2 separate regions of the Homo sapiens genome follow, and region 1 is linked to region 2. The links come from fine-mapping of genetic effects on gene expression. Tissue or cell type: whole blood. Region 2 holds a variant in brackets; the other region holds the start of a gene. All regions are shown on one strand. Distances are between the middles of the regions.

The links. PIP is the estimated chance that this variant, and not a neighbour inherited with it, causes the effect.
Region 1: it holds the start of EPS8L2, and the variant in region 2 is fine-mapped to the expression of EPS8L2 in whole blood (TOPMed, PIP 0.94).

What each region holds. Positions count from the first base shown.
Region 1 is chr11:702,916-710,915 of GRCh38, forward strand. It overlaps EPS8L2 (EPS8 signaling adaptor L2), which reads left to right and starts at 3,316. Exons shown (of 21, transcript NM_022772.4): 1 at 3,316-3,373; 2 at 6,415-6,536; 3 at 6,638-6,693; 4 at 7,507-7,571. The coding sequence starts at 6,493. TMEM80 (transmembrane protein 80) reads left to right here. Exons shown (of 5, transcript NM_001042463.3): 5 at 30-1,214. The coding sequence ends at 235. It also overlaps a transcript of DEAF1 not described here.
Region 2 is chr11:723,180-731,179 of GRCh38, forward strand. It overlaps EPS8L2 (EPS8 signaling adaptor L2), which reads left to right. Exons shown (of 21, transcript NM_022772.4): 15 at 62-174; 16 at 1,545-1,650; 17 at 2,549-2,668; 18 at 2,919-2,991; 19 at 3,125-3,305; 20 at 3,440-3,572; 21 at 3,722-4,548. The coding sequence ends at 3,802. Among named protein-coding and RNA genes, the nearest start is that of TALDO1, 20 kb to the right of the region's middle. The variant C/T (reference allele first, on the strand shown) is at 4,273.

The sequences.
Region 1 (8,000 bases), 20 kb before region 2:
CCTTCCCTCCCCTTTGCTCTGTTCTCCAGGCACCAGGGGCAACCTGACAGAGGCTGAGAGGCCGCTGGCCGCCAGCCTGGCCCTCACGGCTGGCACCGCCCTCCTCTCTGCCCACTTCCTGCTTTGGCAGGCCCTAGTGTTGTGGGCGGACTGGGCCCTCAGCGCCACGCTCCTGGCCCTTCACGGCCTGGAGGCCGTCCTGCAGGTGGTTGCCATCGCGGCCTTCACCAGGTAGCTACGGACACCCGGGATACCCCACACTGGGGCCCTCCTCCTGGGCCTGACCAGTCCCCCAGCTGTCACCTCCCCATTCCTGGACAGGAAGGGCACTTTTCCTAGTGACTGGCCATAGATGGTTTTGGATGGTTCCATCTGTTCTGGCAGGAGTGGGAGCAGGAGCCAGGGCAGAACAAACTGCTGGAGGCCCTGGTGTTGGGAACAGCTGCGGGGAGGGTAGGGACCAGACAGAACTGCCTTCAAGATGAGTCCCAGGAGCGCACACTCAGCCCTGTCAGTGGGGTCTGGCTTTAGCAGCCAGGCCTCCACAGACCCCCATGGGCCCCCAGGGCCGAGAGGGAGGACAGAGCCCTTCAGAACAGAGGCCTCATCTCACTGCATCCCCCATCACCCCCTAGTTCCCCAATGGTCCTAATTTGTGTTCTGAGATCCCAGTTTACTCCGTGGCCAGGCCCCACCTGTGTTTCCAAGTCGGGCTGGAGACGCAGGATGGGGTAGGCCTTGTGCTCTGAGCAACCCCAGCTCTGCCTCACAGGCAGGCAGGCCCGGTGCAAGAGTGGACTCTGGGTTCCTAAAGCAATAAATGCAAACAAGCCAACAGCTCTGCTGCCTAGCAATTTCCATCTTAGCCACACTTCTCCCTTCAGGGGCTTCGGAGGAGAGGTCAGGGCTAAGGCCGGGGATGAGACTGCAGGAGAGAGAGCAGCGGAGGGCCACATTCGGAGCCTCCGTCCACTCCAGTTTTATCAGCTTTTGCCTTTTGCACGGAGTGCTAAACAAATTCTAGCTCTGTGTTTTTTTCCCATTCCCAGATTTACTATCAGTTCTCCTTAAAAAGTATCTAAGCTGTTACAGTAGCTTTCCCTTCACTTGATTCTATTGTGTGTTTTCTATGTTTGGAATAATTACACCCAAATATCTAGATATTTTCTCTTCACCGCATTTTGTAAATAAAGAGATGTGTATGCCTCCCTGAATTCTCCTAATTATGGCCACCTCCCCCACCCCATCTCCAGTTCTCCTGCCCTGCAAGAGAGCACACCCCACTTGCCAGCTGGTCAGTTCCTGGCTGGCCTCGCCCTCGGGCCCTGGCTGCCGGGCGCCTTCCGCTCGGTGGACTCCTGAGGGCAGGAGGCTGCGGGACTGTCCTGGGCCTCCACTGGGGCTCCCTCGGCTGGGGTGGCTGTGGCTGTGGCACCTGGACAGTCTTTCCTGCCTGTCTTCGTGGAAGCGGTGGGAGCACCCAGTTGTCCTGGGCCGACTTCCTTTGACCTGTCTGTGGCCCCCAGTGGCCACGGTGAGCTGCAGGACAGCCCTGAGGACCCACTTCACACACCAGCGCCTGAGCGCCTCGGGCCACCTCCCTCACCAGCGCCTGCACTCGCAGAAGACCAGCTGGGCACACCTGCCATCTGGAGGACCCAGCCCACAAACCATGCAGACCAGGGAAGGACCCCCTCCCTGAAGCTGGAGACCTGTTGCCTTCATGGTTAATGGATCCTGATACCTCCAGTCTCAGCGAGCACACAAAGGCAGTGGTCACCTGTTCCACAGGGAACGCCATGGCTCCAGGTGACCCGGAGTGGATGGGGCCCGAGAGGCCAGCCTGGACTGTCTCCTGAGGGCAGGCTCCGCACTCAAAATCGTGTTGACAGGCACCCGTTTAGGAGTGGAGAGGGACCCCACCCCCCAGCTGTCCTCTCCAGCGCCTGTTTCCCACTTGGCCACTCCCAGCTCTGCCTCCAGGAAGGGTGAGGGCACGGGTGCACCGAGGGGTTGGCGTGTGTGACCCTGAGCTCTGGGTCAGGGCAAGCTCATGCATGGAGCAGGATCACGGCAGGTTCCTGGAGATCAAACGGCAAAGGCTGTAAACCAGGAAGCCAGGTCTTGCCTGGGCTCAGGGGCAGGCACTGGGCCCGAAGGAGGAGGGCCACTTCCTGCCAGCCCTCCACCGAGCTCACCTATGGCGCCTCCCCAGGAAGTGCTCCGGCCAGCCCAGGGTAAACACGCTAGCCCTGCCCCTCTGGGACCATAGCCCGGGGACCCAGACTCTTGGCCACGCTCATTCCCACCCCTACCCAGGACCGGCAGCCGGAGCCTTGGGTCCCTGCATGGGCCTGGGGCGCCCTGTGCCCCTTCACCTCGTCCTCGTCCAGTTGACTGCTGTGGCAGCCGGTGCTACCCGCTGTGTCCACTGCACCCTGGCCCTGTTCTGAGCGGTCACAGCAGCTGGGGAGAAGGGCCATCCTGGAAGCCGGGCAGATGAGGACGGAACCAGACAGTCCCACTGTGGTGGGCAGAGGTGGGGCCTGGGCCTGACCACGGGGCAGTGCAAGGAGAGAGGCATCCTGAGAGGGCCTGAGGTGTCCCCACCTCCCCTGACACCCCATCCCTCAGTGCCCAGGCTGGGCAGAAAGGGGGGCCTGGAGGAGCAGCTGCACTGTGAACTCAGGGCTCCAGGCCTGGGGTGGGCATGGCTGGGTCCTGCCTGACACCCACCCACTCACCGAAGCCTCTGCCCCTGGGCCTGCGGTGGGCCCGGTAAGGGAAGTGACTCTGCCCCATGCCTGGGGCACCTGAGGGGTGCACCTGGCCCGGCGGAGGCTCTGACCTCCCCAGGGCTGGAGCCCTCCCCAGCAATGCGCCAGCGCTGCCCCCGAAGTCCCATTGGCAGCGTTCCCCCGTCCCCCGGCCTGCTGGGGCGCAGCTAGGCCCTGCCCAAGGAAGAGCTCGAGGCCTCGCCCTGCTCATCCCGCGGAGGCGGCCCTGCGCCCCGCCTGTCCCCAGCGCCCCAGCTCTAGGGGCTAGGCCCGCGGAGGGGCACACCAGGCGGGTGTTGGGGAGGACGCAGAGGGCTGGGGCTGGAGCCCAGGCGGGGCAGGGGGCGGGGCGGAGCTGGGTCCGAGGCCGGCGGGGGCGCCTCCATCCCACGCCCTCCTCCCCCGCGCGCCCGCCCGCTCTCGGGTGACTCCGCAACCTGTCGCTCAGGTTCCTCCTCTCCCGGCCCCGCCCCGGCCCGGCCCCGCCGAGCGTCCCACCCGCCCGCGGGAGACCTGGCGCCCCGGCCGAGGCGCGAACAGACGGACGCACCGGCGAGCGCCGAGGGGACAGGCCGAGCGCGGGGCGCCGGAGGCAGGTGAGCGCTGCGGACACGGGGGAGCGCGCCCGCCCGGGCCTCAGTTTACCCGGTGGCGATGGGACGCGGGGCTTCTGGTTCAGGACACCGGGACGAACGCGGCGTCGCAGGGCGCGGGGCACTTGGAGGGCGGCCGGGCCGAGGGCGCGGGGCAAGGGGCTGGGGGCCTGGTCGAGTCCCCACCTCTCCTGGACGGGTCCTGCTGCAGCCCGGCCTGCCCCCGTCGGTCCTGGGCGGCGGCCGGCGAGCAAGGATATTTTTAAGCCAGCGATGGGTGACTCACCTGCCCCGTCCTGCCCACTCCCAGCTCTGGGGCTTGGTGGGGGCAATCCCTGCGTCCGGAGAGCGCTGGTGGTAGGGAGGCTTCTCCCGGTTCTGTGAGCAGCAGGACCCTCCCGAGGGCCTGACCGTGGAGGTAGCACTGCACACCCACTCCCTGTGGGCCGGAGCCAGGAGGCACTTCCTGGGTGTCGGAGCCCAGAAGGAAACCAGTGGCCGGGAAGCACCAGCTGGGTCAGTCTCCAGGTCAGGGTTGGGGGTGGGAGTTTCAGGGAGGAGGGGAGGCTGGGACAGGGGCTGCAGAGGCCCTGCCAGGAGAGGCAGGAGGGTGGGCTGGCAGGAGCCTGTGGGCACGCGAACTTCAGCCATCCTAGATTCCTGGTCCCTGCGTCCAGCTGCCTGGCGTTGCCCCTTGCTGCGGGGTGTCCCTGGTGGCAGGGGAGGGGGAGGCAGGGCCGGGCATGCCCGGACCTCTGCCCCCACCCACCCCGTGCTCAGTCCTGGGTCGGCTGTGCTGGGAGGCAGGCCCAGCTGGCGGCGGCCCCTCCCCTCGCGGCCCCTCCTCCCCTCGCGGCCCCTCCTGGGTCCCAGCCTCTCCCGGGCCTGCTTAGCACCCAGGCCTTGTTGGCATAGCTCTCCCACCGGGCCTTCTCCGCCTGCCTCGGTCTCCTTTCCCACCCTCAGCTTCCCCAGCTTATCCCTTCCTCCCTCAAGCCATAGCTTCCAAACAAGGACAGGGCCAGGGCCTGAGGGGCCTCCCCATTCCAGGGCCCCACCCAGCGCCTATGAGGGCAGCCTGGAGCCCCTGTGACTCAGCTGACCCCTCCCCAAGGTCACTCAGCATGTGGAGCTGGAACTTGAACTTGGAGCCCGTCCCTCTACCCTCCTGCCCTGCTGGGACCTCCTCCCCTCCACAGCCCGACTGACCGGGCACCCCGCTCTGCCTCACTTCACACCGGGAAAATGACCACAGTACAAAGTGCAGCCTGGGCCTCCAGGGCTTCGTCCCCACCACCAGTGGGCCAAAGAAGCCTCCCCAGGGGGGCGGGGCTCCCACAGGGCAGGAGGCAGCCCCATACCCATGTGCTTCAGACCCAGACACCACACCTGGACCCACCCCACTGCTGCCCGGCCCTGCCTGGGCCTGAGGTCCCCGATGCCCTGCAGGCAACCGAAGGCCAGGAACCTGGCCTTCCCCAGGGGGGTCGCGTGTCACAGCCCTCCATGTTTGCGTGCCCCCAGGCCTGAGTCTGCAAGGGTGCGTTGGTGTCTCGCCCAGGTGTGTGCCTGGACACACGTGCCTGGCGCCCTTGGTGGAGCCCGCCAGGAATCCCATTAAGCAAACACTCAGGCTCGCCACTGAGCCCGTGAACATTCCAGACATTCTCCACGGATAGATGGATGGAGGAAGTGGCCATACCCCCTGGTGCACCCAGCCCCTCATGTCAGCGGCAGTGCCCCCGGGCCTCCCAGACCCTCCCACTAGGCCAGACCTGGTCAAACCAGAAAGTCCCGGGTGCTCCGAGCCACTCCCTTGACCCTCCATACCAACAGCAGTGGCTGGTGACCCCCACCGTGGCAGACCCAAACTCTGAAGCCACAGGGGACAGCCCTGCAGCCCTGGCAGGAGGCAGATGGTGTGGACCTGTGGGGAGCTGATCACAGAGCCACAGAACAGCCAGGTCCCCACAGGGCATAGTCCCCTTGGGACAAGTCAGCCTGGTTCAGGGCCATCAGGCTCTGTCCATCCCCCCGGGAAGCCCCTAGGGTCCAGCCCAAATCAGACCCACCTGTCTGCCCTGGCGGCTGGGCCTTAGTTTCCCCAAAATGCTCGGGGAAGAGGTCAGCACTAGGAGCCCAGAGACAGGCTCTGAGGATTCTGCCCCTGGGGGAGGCCAGAGGCACCTGCCCCATAGCCACCCTACCTCGTTGGAGGGGCAGTGATACTGTGTGTTGGGGCCACTGGACTGGCTCCCAGTCTCAGCCCCCACCACACCTGCCCTCCAGTCCCTCCCCTAGGCTTGGCTGCTGCCAGGGGTTCTGCGCTGGCCACCTGGCCGCATCCCTGCCCTCGAGGTGAGGAAACACTGCACCCCGGGGACCCCAGGGTTTCCTGCCCGCACAGCCTCTTCCCTGCCAGGTCTCCCAGGCCCAGGAAAGAGCCAAGGGCCAGCCTCTTTGCTGGGGCCTGGACAGAGGTGGCATGTGTGGGTGGCAAGTCCACATGTGGGTGCAGGAGCCCCTTGGGGTGCAGGCCTGGGGTGGGGCAGGAGTGGCGGCTAGAGCCGGGCTCCCTCTGGACTTCAGGACCTACCCCAACTCCAGCCTCACCTCTCCTGCCATCCTGCAGCTCCCACCCGCCCTCCCCCAACCCCCACCGCACCCCCCTCCCCCCACACTCCCACCTCATCCCCCTCCCCTTACCCATCCCACCCCCCTCCCCACAGCACCAGGGCCTTAAACTCCATGCTGCCCAGCTTGGAAGGCGCCTTCTGCCCCCAGGGCCCTTGTCAGAGCCTCCCAGTCAGCCTCTGGGGGGTCCCTGTGGAGCACCTAGGGTCTGAGGCATGACGAGGCTGATCGACTGTCAACTGGGACGTGGGGCCAACTGGGACGTGGGGCCAACTGGGATGTCGGGCAGGGGCTCTGCCCCCCAAGGGACCCCCACCCAGGCCAGGCCAGTCAGGGATCTGGCCCAGGGAAGGAGGGGAGGAACCAGCCAGGCCGGAGGAAGTGTCAGCGCAGCCCTTCTGTCCACCCAGGTGTGGGACAGGCACTGGCCTCAGACCGGGGCCACACTGAGGTCTGCCCTTCTCCCGCTGGCCGCCACCCAAGACACCATGAGCCAGTCCGGGGCCGTGAGCTGCTGCCCGGGTGCCACCAAGTGAGCCCTCCCACCCATCCCGAATACCCCACCCTCACCCTCTGAACAGTCCCCAGGGAGGGGTGCAGTTTGGCCCTGCCCTGACAGCCCCTCCCCTGCAGTGGCAGCCTGGGCCGGTCCGACGGTGTGGCCAAGATGAGCCCCAAGGACCTGTTTGGTGAGTGAGGTTTGAGAACGGGCTGGACGTCACAGGGGAGAAATGGGCACTGCATCCAGGTGGGGGACAGCTGCTCCTGCCCCACAGCTGTGCCTGGTCTGGCCCAGGGGATCTCCGGGTGCCCAGGGAGGCCTCTGGACCCTAATCAACCTTCCGAAAGCTCCTGGCCACTGGATCCCCTCCCCCACACCCGTAAGGGGAGAGGCCTTTACTAATAATTCAGGGAGCATCAATATTGATTCCGCTGCACTCATTGCTGTAACCTGATCACAGCGAGGTTCAGGCAGGATAAGCCGCCAGGTGTCTGCTCCAGGAGGGGGGCCTGGCCAGCCCCCACCTCCCCCCACTCTGCCCTTCCCCAGAGACGACCCTGCCCTCTCGCTAGCTAGATGCACCCTTCACTTATGTCTTTGGACAAGGTGCCTAGTCTGGAAAGCGAGAAGACCTGGGAGGGCAGGGAGAGTGAAGCTGGCAGCTCTCAGAGTGGGAAGAAGCCGGGCTGGGACCCCCTTCCTGTCCCCTCACCCTCCGGGACAGAAACCCCCCGGGCACAGGCTGCTGGTCCCCACTCCACTCAGAGCAAGCCCATCGCCTTCTCCGAGCTGCGTCCTTCTCCAAGGGGGCTTCCCTGGAGGGAGGGAGGGGGCTTCCTGCAGGTCCTGATTTCACACCCACATCCTTCCTGGTGGCCAAGAGGTCCACGGAGCAGCCTCCCTCCGCTTGACTCCACCTTCCCTTGTGGGTCCAGTCCCAACTGGACGGGAGGCTGTGGGTCCTGCCCGTCGGGGGAGTGACTGGTGTCTCCCGGTTCAGAGCAGAGGAAGAAGTATTCCAACTCCAACGTCATCATGCACGAGACCTCGCAGTACCACGTCCAGGTAAGGCCCCGCCCCCAGGTAGGCTCCGCCCCCAGGGAGCACCCTCAGGACATGGCTGTCCTCAGGTTCTCGTCTCCACAAAAAATAAAATAATTAGACGGGCATGGTGGTGCCGGCCTGTAGGCCCTGCTACTGGGGAGGCTGAGGCGAGGGGGTCACTTGAGCCCGGGAGGCGGAGGCTGTAGTGAGCCAAGATCGCACCACTGCACTCCAGCCTGGGCACCTGGGTGACAGAGCTAGACCCTGTCTCAAAACGAAAGAGAGAAAGAGAGAAAGAGAGAAAGGGAGGAAGGGAGGAAGGGAGGAAAGCTCCAGGGAGAGTGGTCAGCCCAGCTTCTGACACCCACGGGGCCGGGGGAGGCCAGAGCCAGAACTGCCCACACTGTCCCGGGCTCAGCCACGGGGCCGGGGAAAGCGCCCCTCTGGTTC
Region 2 (8,000 bases):
CCCTCGTCCTGGGACCCAGCCCCGCCCCATGTCTAACTCAGGTCGCCCACCTTCCCCACAGGTGAGTCCAGTGAGCCGACAGTCCATAAGAAACTCCCAGAAGCACAGCCCCACTTCAGAGCCCACCCCCCCGGGGGATGCCCTACCACCAGTCAGCTCCCCACATACTCACAGGTAAGCCCCCCTCAAAGTGAGGGAGCATGAAAGTGAAACCCTTCAGAACCTACAGTCTCTAAAAACATATGGGTACGCTGCCACCAGGTGGTGGCAAGTGCATTGTTCAAGTGGTTTAAAATACTTTTCCAGATTTGAAGCGGTTTTCATTTCAACTGCATGATATATAATTAAAGGAAACATTTCAAAAGTCATGCACAAATTCTCTACCCTAATATATCAGCTTTTTCTGTGCATCCACATGTATGTTTTAGAACCAAGGTTAGAAACTACTAAACCACTGAACTTGAGTGGTTTCACCAAACACTGGCACCCTGTTGGGGCTGTTGGGACTGATTCAGGCCCAACCTCTGGTAGAGCCAAAAGAGGAGACTGGGGTTCTGGGCTAGTGAAGCCTCTCCCCTCCTCCCACCCCCAGCCCCACCTGTTTCCAAAGAGGACAAAGAACAAGCCTATGGCACTAGGGGAGTCCCGTCTTTCCTTGCCTCTCCTCTTCCCTTCTGTGCTCATTCCTGGTCCAATCTGCATGGGAAGCCCCTGACCCTCCCACACCCCAGGATTCAATTTTGGGGTAAAGAGGGGCCAGCAATCCATCTTCTAAGCAAGCATGGCCTCCCCTCACCCACAGTGTCAGCCTGGCTCCCGTGGTCCCTGGCCTAGGACCACACTTAAAAACATTTCCACCCTTTGACTTCAGCTCCTGGTCTGTCCACCCTGGCCATGTCCTGACAGTCCATGGCCACTTCATTTCCCTGAGCACCTGGACACGGGAGCTGCCCTGATGACCAGGGCCACACTGACCAGGATGGACGGCCTGGCCAGGTGACAGCCACAGGCCTGCTACATGCCAAAGCCAGGACCCCTCAGCCAGGGCCAGCCCCCCCGCGCTTTTGAGGTGCAGGTCCCACCCCACAGAGAGGAGCTTGAGACCCGTCCTCCACTGGACCATTTGGGCTGTGTTCAGTCCTCAGAGGGGCCACGGCTCTGAAGACATGCTGGCCCTCACTGGCCAGCTGCGGGGAGCTGTGACCCTGGCGTTTCCCAGGAACGCCCCTGGCTCTGGTTCCCCTGGGGTGCCGGACTGGAGACCCCTGAGGTGGCCTGGGATGGGCCAGCCTTGCTGTACCACAGGCCCCTGCGCCACGCCCACCTCCTGCCTGCCCCGCCTCCACGCAGGGCCCCAAAGCTCTGGGGCTGTCACAGTTTCCATTCCGGGCTGACGCTGCCTGCAGCCTCTCTCCACGGTGACCTCCAGAACAGAAAAGAGGCAGCCAGTCGTGCACCTGGGAAGCTGCTGCCCCCCAGCCACTGCCCAGGTCTCAGAGGAGACCCCCACCAGACTGGGCCTCAGCCCCTCCTGTTCCTCACAGGGGCTACCAGCCAACACCAGCCATGGCCAAGTACGTCAAGATCCTGTATGACTTCACAGCCCGAAATGCCAACGAGCTATCGGTGCTCAAGGATGAGGTCCTAGAGGTGAGGGGCTGGAGGACGGGGTCCAAGAGGGGGAAACAGGGCAGGGCTTCAAGGGAGGGGCTACCAGGGGAGGTGGGGAGCGGTCTAGGGCCAGGCTGGGTGATGCCAGGACGGGGCACAGCTGCTGGCCCCTTTCTCCAGGGTCCCCGCCCTTGGACTCTGATCAGGATCCCCAGCCTGTTGGAGGGGCCTTCCCATCTTGGGGCTCCCCAAAGGCATGCAGAGACCCCTGTGCCAGGCTGGGGGGAGCATCTGCACCACGTGGACTCAGCGGGGGCCTGTCATTCACACCCACCCAGGAGCCCCCACATCTGCACTGGCCGCATCTGCCAGCCGGAATCCAGGCCACCCACTGGGGGACAGAAAGTGGAGCAGGCTAGGGGGGAGTGGGCCACATCCACAGCCTGGCTCGGCGGCTCACGCCTGTAACCGCAGCACTGGGAGGCCAAGGCGGGAGGATCCCTTTAGCCCACGAGTTCGAGACAAGCCTGGGCAACACCTCAAAACCCCATCTCTACAAAAAACATAAAAATTATCTGGATGTGGTGGTGTGTGCCTGTGGTCCCAGCTACTCTGGAGGCTGAGGTGGGGGGATCGCCTGAACCCAGGAGGTCGAGGCTGCAGTGGGCAGTGATTGCACCACTGCATTCCAGCCTGGGCGGCAGAGTGAGACCCTGTCTCCGAGAAAAAAAGGGTCCCCCAGACTCCTTGAGGCAGGGTGGGGGAGGAGCAGCCCAGCGAGGGATGGAGGGGTGGAAACAGGGGTGCGGAGAGAATGGAGCGAAGCGGGGCTCCGGGAGACCCTAGGGCGCTCCCGACCTCTGTAAAGCGGCGCCAGCGGGTGGTCCCAGCCCCGCAGAGCCTGGGTGTGGGGAGGGGCTGACGGCGCGCCCCGCAGGTGCTGGAGGACGGCCGGCAGTGGTGGAAGCTGCGCAGCCGCAGCGGCCAGGCGGGGTACGTGCCCTGCAACATCCTAGGCGAGGCGCGACCGGAGGACGCCGGCGCCCCGTTCGAGCAGGTGAGCCCGCGGGGGTCCCTGGGGTCGCAGCCCCCAGCTTCCTGGAGCAGCCCCGCCTGCGCCTAGCCCCGCCCCAAGGCCAGCCCCGCGGCTGGAGAGACTGGGGCAGGTGCAGGGCTCCCTGGGCAGAAGGAAAGGGCTGGTCCGCAGGCCGGGGCTGTAGGGGGATTGGCGGGGTGGGGAGGTCCCGGGCAGGTGCTGGGAGGCGGGGGCGGGGCGTGGGGAGCCTAATCGCCCCCCGCCCCCGCAGGCCGGTCAGAAGTACTGGGGCCCCGCCAGCCCGACCCACAAGCTACCCCCAAGCTTCCCGGGGAACAAAGACGGTGAGAGCTGCTGCTTCGAGGCGGGGGTCCCGGGCCCAGGGCCACCTGGGGGAGGAAGTGTGGGGGGGGTCCCTGGGCCGGGGGCGGGGGCAGGGGCAAGGCAGCGGCGGGCCTGAGTCGCGCGCCCCCTCAGAGCTCATGCAGCACATGGACGAGGTCAACGACGAGCTCATCCGGAAAATCAGCAACATCAGGGCGCAGCCACAGAGGCACTTCCGCGTGGAGCGCAGCCAGCCCGTGAGCCAGCCGCTCACCTACGAGTCGGGTCCGGACGAGGTCCGCGCCTGGCTGGAAGCCAAGGCCTTCAGCCCGCGGTGAGCGGGGGCGGGGGATGAGCTGGGGCCCGGGCGAGGGGTGGGAGGTGCGGCCGAAGGTGCGCAGCTGTCGGGGCGGGCGCCAGGCAGCCTCGCTCACAGCGCGGCCCTGACGCCCAACTGCCCGCCCCCAGGATCGTGGAGAACCTGGGCATCCTGACCGGGCCGCAGCTCTTCTCCCTCAACAAGGAGGAGCTGAAGAAAGTGTGCGGCGAGGAGGGCGTCCGCGTGTACAGCCAGCTCACCATGCAGAAGGCCTTCCTGGAGGTGAGCCCGCCTGCGCTCCGGCGCCACGCCCCTCCTGCCCCTGCGCCCTCCTCTCCCCCGCCCGTTCCTGGGGTCGCAGAGCAAGGGGGAGGCCGGCACCCAGACACGTGGGACCCCCGGCTGAGGATGCCCCCATTTCTCCTCCCTAGAAGCAGCAAAGTGGGTCGGAGCTGGAAGAACTCATGAACAAGTTTCATTCCATGAATCAGAGGAGGGGGGAGGACAGCTAGGCCCAGCTGCCTTGGGCTGGGGCCTGCGGAGGGGAAGCCCACCCACAATGCATGGAGTATTATTTTTATATGTGTATGTATTTTGTATCAAGGACACGGAGGGGGTGTGGTGCTGGCTAGAGGTCCCTGCCCCTGTCTGGAGGCACAACGCCCATCCTTAGGCCAAACAGTACCCAAGGCCTCAGCCCACACCAAGACTAATCTCAGCCAAACCTGCTGCTTGGTGGTGCCAGCCCCTTGTCCACCTTCTCTTGAGGCCACAGAACTCCCTGGGGCTGGGGCCTCTTTCTCTGGCCTCCCCTGTGCACCTGGGGGGTCCTGGCCCCTGTGATGCTCCCCCATCCCCACCCACTTCTACATCCATCCACACCCCAGGGTGAGCTGGAGCTCCAGGCTGGCCAGGCTGAACCTCGCACACACGCAGAGTTCTGCTCCCTGAGGGGGGCCCGGGAGGGGCTCCAGCAGGAGGC[C/T]GTGGGTGCCATTCGGGGGAAAGTGGGGGAACGACACACACTTCACCTGCAAGGGCCGACAACGCAGGGGACACCGTGCCGGCTTCAGACACTCCCAGCGCCCACTCTTACAGGCCCAGGACTGGAGCTTTCTCTGGCCAAGTTTCAGGCCAATGATCCCCGCATGGTGTTGGGGGTGCTGGTGTGTCTTGGTGCCTGGACTTGAGTCTCACCCTACAGATGAGAGGTGGCTGAGGCACCAGGGCTAAGCAATTAAACCAGTTAAGTCTCCCAGGAGCCGTGTGTCTCAGTTCTCTGGGAGTCGGAGTGGGTCCTGGAGCCCCCGGAAACTGCACCTTTTCTAAGCAGTGCCGGGCAGAGGGCTGGCCGTCCGCCAGGCTGCTCTGCCCCTGAGCCCAGAGGGGACCCTGCCCACTTCTCTTCCTGTGGCCCTCCCAGGCCCAGCGACCAGAAGGCCCAAAGCGTGTCATCCAAGCCCGGCTTTCGCTGGGCACAACCCTAGTGGGAGCGGTGGGGACAGAGCCAGCTCGGCCAGACGGTCGGCAGGCCCCAGGAGGGCCATGAGTCAGAGGGCAAGGCTGAAACTGGATTTGGAGATCTTAGCCCAGGCTGACGGAGGCTCCCAAGAAGGGGGAGCAGGCCACACTCAGCACCCTGCGTGGGAGGGGCACCTGACCGCCAGATGGGCGGTCCACCTGAGCCGCACCCTTGGAGGGGCCTTTGGTGCCCTCTGCCGGCCGCTCCATGTGCTGCCGTGAGTGGCCGCCAGGGGTGCCCTCGCCCTGGATTGGTGGCAGGGGGCAACCCACAACCATGTGTCCCCATAGCAGCCGTGAACCCAACCCTGGTGCGGAGCATCCGGGGACACAGTCCTGGGGTCTTGGCCTGGGCAGGGGCGACTGTGGGGCTGGGCTGGGGGGGGCGTGTCCCTTGCCTGGTCCACCACCCAGCCAGGCCTGGACACCAGGCCACAGAAGCCCTGACTCACAGCTCAGGCCACACTAGGCCAAGTCTTAACCACAGTGTCTGGTCGGGGCAGCAGGGATTGTCTGGTGCCCTCTGAGCCACGACCCGGGCTTGATGGCCACCACCACTCCTCCAGGCCCCCGGAAGAGGCCCCCCCACCCTGTCAGATGGACCCTGCAGTGAGAGAGACAGGTCCAAGAGGAAAAGGGGAGGGATGGGGGCACCGGCCCTCCTCCCTGCAACCTGCAGCTCCCGCTGCCTGCTGAGCCACCACCTCAGGACGGGGATAGGCACCGGGGCTATATCTGCTCCAAAAGGGGCCTCTGTGGGCCCCAGGATGCCAGTCCTTGGAAGTGAGGGAGGCTGCCCACTCCCCAACCACTCCCAGCAACAGGACCCTTCCTCCACCAGGATGGTCTGGGCTTCATATGCAGCCTCCAGGCTGGGCTGCTCAGCTTCTGAGGGCCCCAGATCTACACCTGCTTCTTCAGCCTTCTCCCTGTCCACCTCCCCCAGCCCCATTTAGAGCCCCCTACCTGCTGTGCCCCACTCTGCCACCTGCACAGCTGAGGAGCCCCAGGAAGCCAGACCCCCAGACTCCAGCCCCCAGATCCCAGCCCTAGGCCCCAAGCAGGCTCCCACCCCAGGAGCCCTGAGTCCGAGGCACCCTGGCCCCAGCTGCCTGCTCGGACCTCTGGGCTTCCAGAAATTACCTCCCGTTTCTTCCAAGGGGCTTCCTGCCACCTCCTGAGACCCCCCTCAAGAGCAGATGGGACCACCGACCTCACCGGCCTGGTGATGGGCACAGGGTCACCTGGCATCGGGTGGGCTGGCTCTCTGTGTCCTCTCTGGCCACCCGCCCCAGGGGTGAGGATTGCCCCCCTTCCTGCCCTGAGGGCATCACTCTTGGGGGCCTGTGGTGTTTTGAGTGCTGCCCGCGGCCTCCGGAGGCCCCAGTGGCAGCCCCGTGAGGCAGGCGTGGATAAGAATGACCCGTAGAGGGGCCAGGTCACCTGCTCGAGGCCCGAGTTTGGGGCAGGGGCTGGGGTTAACATGCAATCTCTCTTAGTTCCAACGTGTCCTTAACCACTCACTCCCTCCCCGGCCTCCCTACCCACTTCCCCATCAGGCAGGTCCACAGAAAGAAGGAGGGTCTGCTGGTGCTGGCCCTGGTGGGGCCAGGGTTGCCGAGGGTCTGGCCGTGAGTGTGGGAGAGTCCACACTGGGCGAGGAGGGAGGGCGGGGCTTTGAACATCAGACCTCAGGGTGGGTGGCCTGAGCTGCCAGTGGGGCCACCAGTAGCCACAAGCAAATATCTCCACCAACAAGGCCCGTCTGTCTCGGGACAAGCATGTCTTTGTGGCGCTTGCTCCCCTTCTGTCCTCCCCCACAGCTGGCCCTGTCCGCCCGTGCCCAGTCAGGCCCCGCAGAACCCAAGAGGGGCTTCCCATGCCATTTAGGAAGGGCTGTCTCTTTAAAAAAAAAAAAAATTACAAAACGGTTGATTTCCCAAGAGGTTGACACAGCAGCACGTACAGTAAGATGTTCCTCACACCTGCGGGGATGCCATGGTCCCAGCCCGGGGCACCCGTTACCCAGGAAGGTGGTGAGAGTGGTGCTGGGAAAATGTGTGGAGAAACACAACAGGGACCCCCACTAACCCCACAAAGCTGAACCAGCCCCAGCAGTACTAGACGTCATGAGAGGCAAAACGACCAAGTTCACAGAAGATGCCAGGATATCCATGTGACAAAGGGGAAGAAGAATTTTCTGTACAAAACTTCAAAAGCAGTGGATACCAGGCGCGGCAGCTCACGCCTGTAATCCCAGCACTTTGGAAGGCCGAGGCAGGTGGATCACCTGAGGTCAGGAGTTCGAGACTAGCCTGGCCAACATGGTGAAACCCCATCTCTACTAAAAATACAAAAATTAGCCGGGCATGGTGGCGCGTGCCTGTAATCCCAGCTACTTGGGAGGTTGAGGGAGGAGACTCACTTGAACCCAGGGGGCAGAGGTTGCAGTGAACCAAAATCATGCCACTTCACTCCAGCAAAAGAGCAAAACTCTGTTTCAAAAATAAAATAATGAAAATTTTAAAAAGGGAGTCAATGAGTTTGATTTTGGCAAAATTAAAGACTTGCAGCCGGGCGCAGTAGCTCACACCTGTAATCCCAGCACTTTGGGAGGCCAAGGCAAAAGGATAGCTTGAGCCCAGGGGTTCGAGACCAGCCTGGGCAAATGGCTAGACCCTGTCTCTACAAAAAAAAATTATTAGGCCGGGCACGGTGGCTCATGCCTGTTATCCCAGCACTTTGGGAGGCCAAGGTGGGCAGATCACGAGGTCAGGAGATTGAGACTATCCTGGCTAACACGGCGAAACCTCGTCTCTACTAAAAGTACAAAAAATTAGCTGGGCATGGTGGCGGGCACCTGTAGTCCCAGCTACTGAGGAGGCTGAGGCACGAGAATTGCTTGAACCTGGGAGGCAGAGGTTGCAGTCAGCAGAGATCACGCCACTGCGTGAGCAGAGATCATGCCACTGCACTCCAGCCTGGGCAACAGAGAGAGACTCTGTCTCAAAAAAAAGAAAAGAAAAGAAAAAAAGTTATTAAATTAGCCAGGCGTGCTGGTGAGTGCCTGTGGTCTCACTGCCTGTGCTACTCGGGAGGCTGAGTGGGGAGGATCCCTCGAGCCTGGGAGGCAGAGGTTGCAGTGAGCTGAGATGGCACCACTGCATTCCAGCCTGGGCGACACAGTGAGAT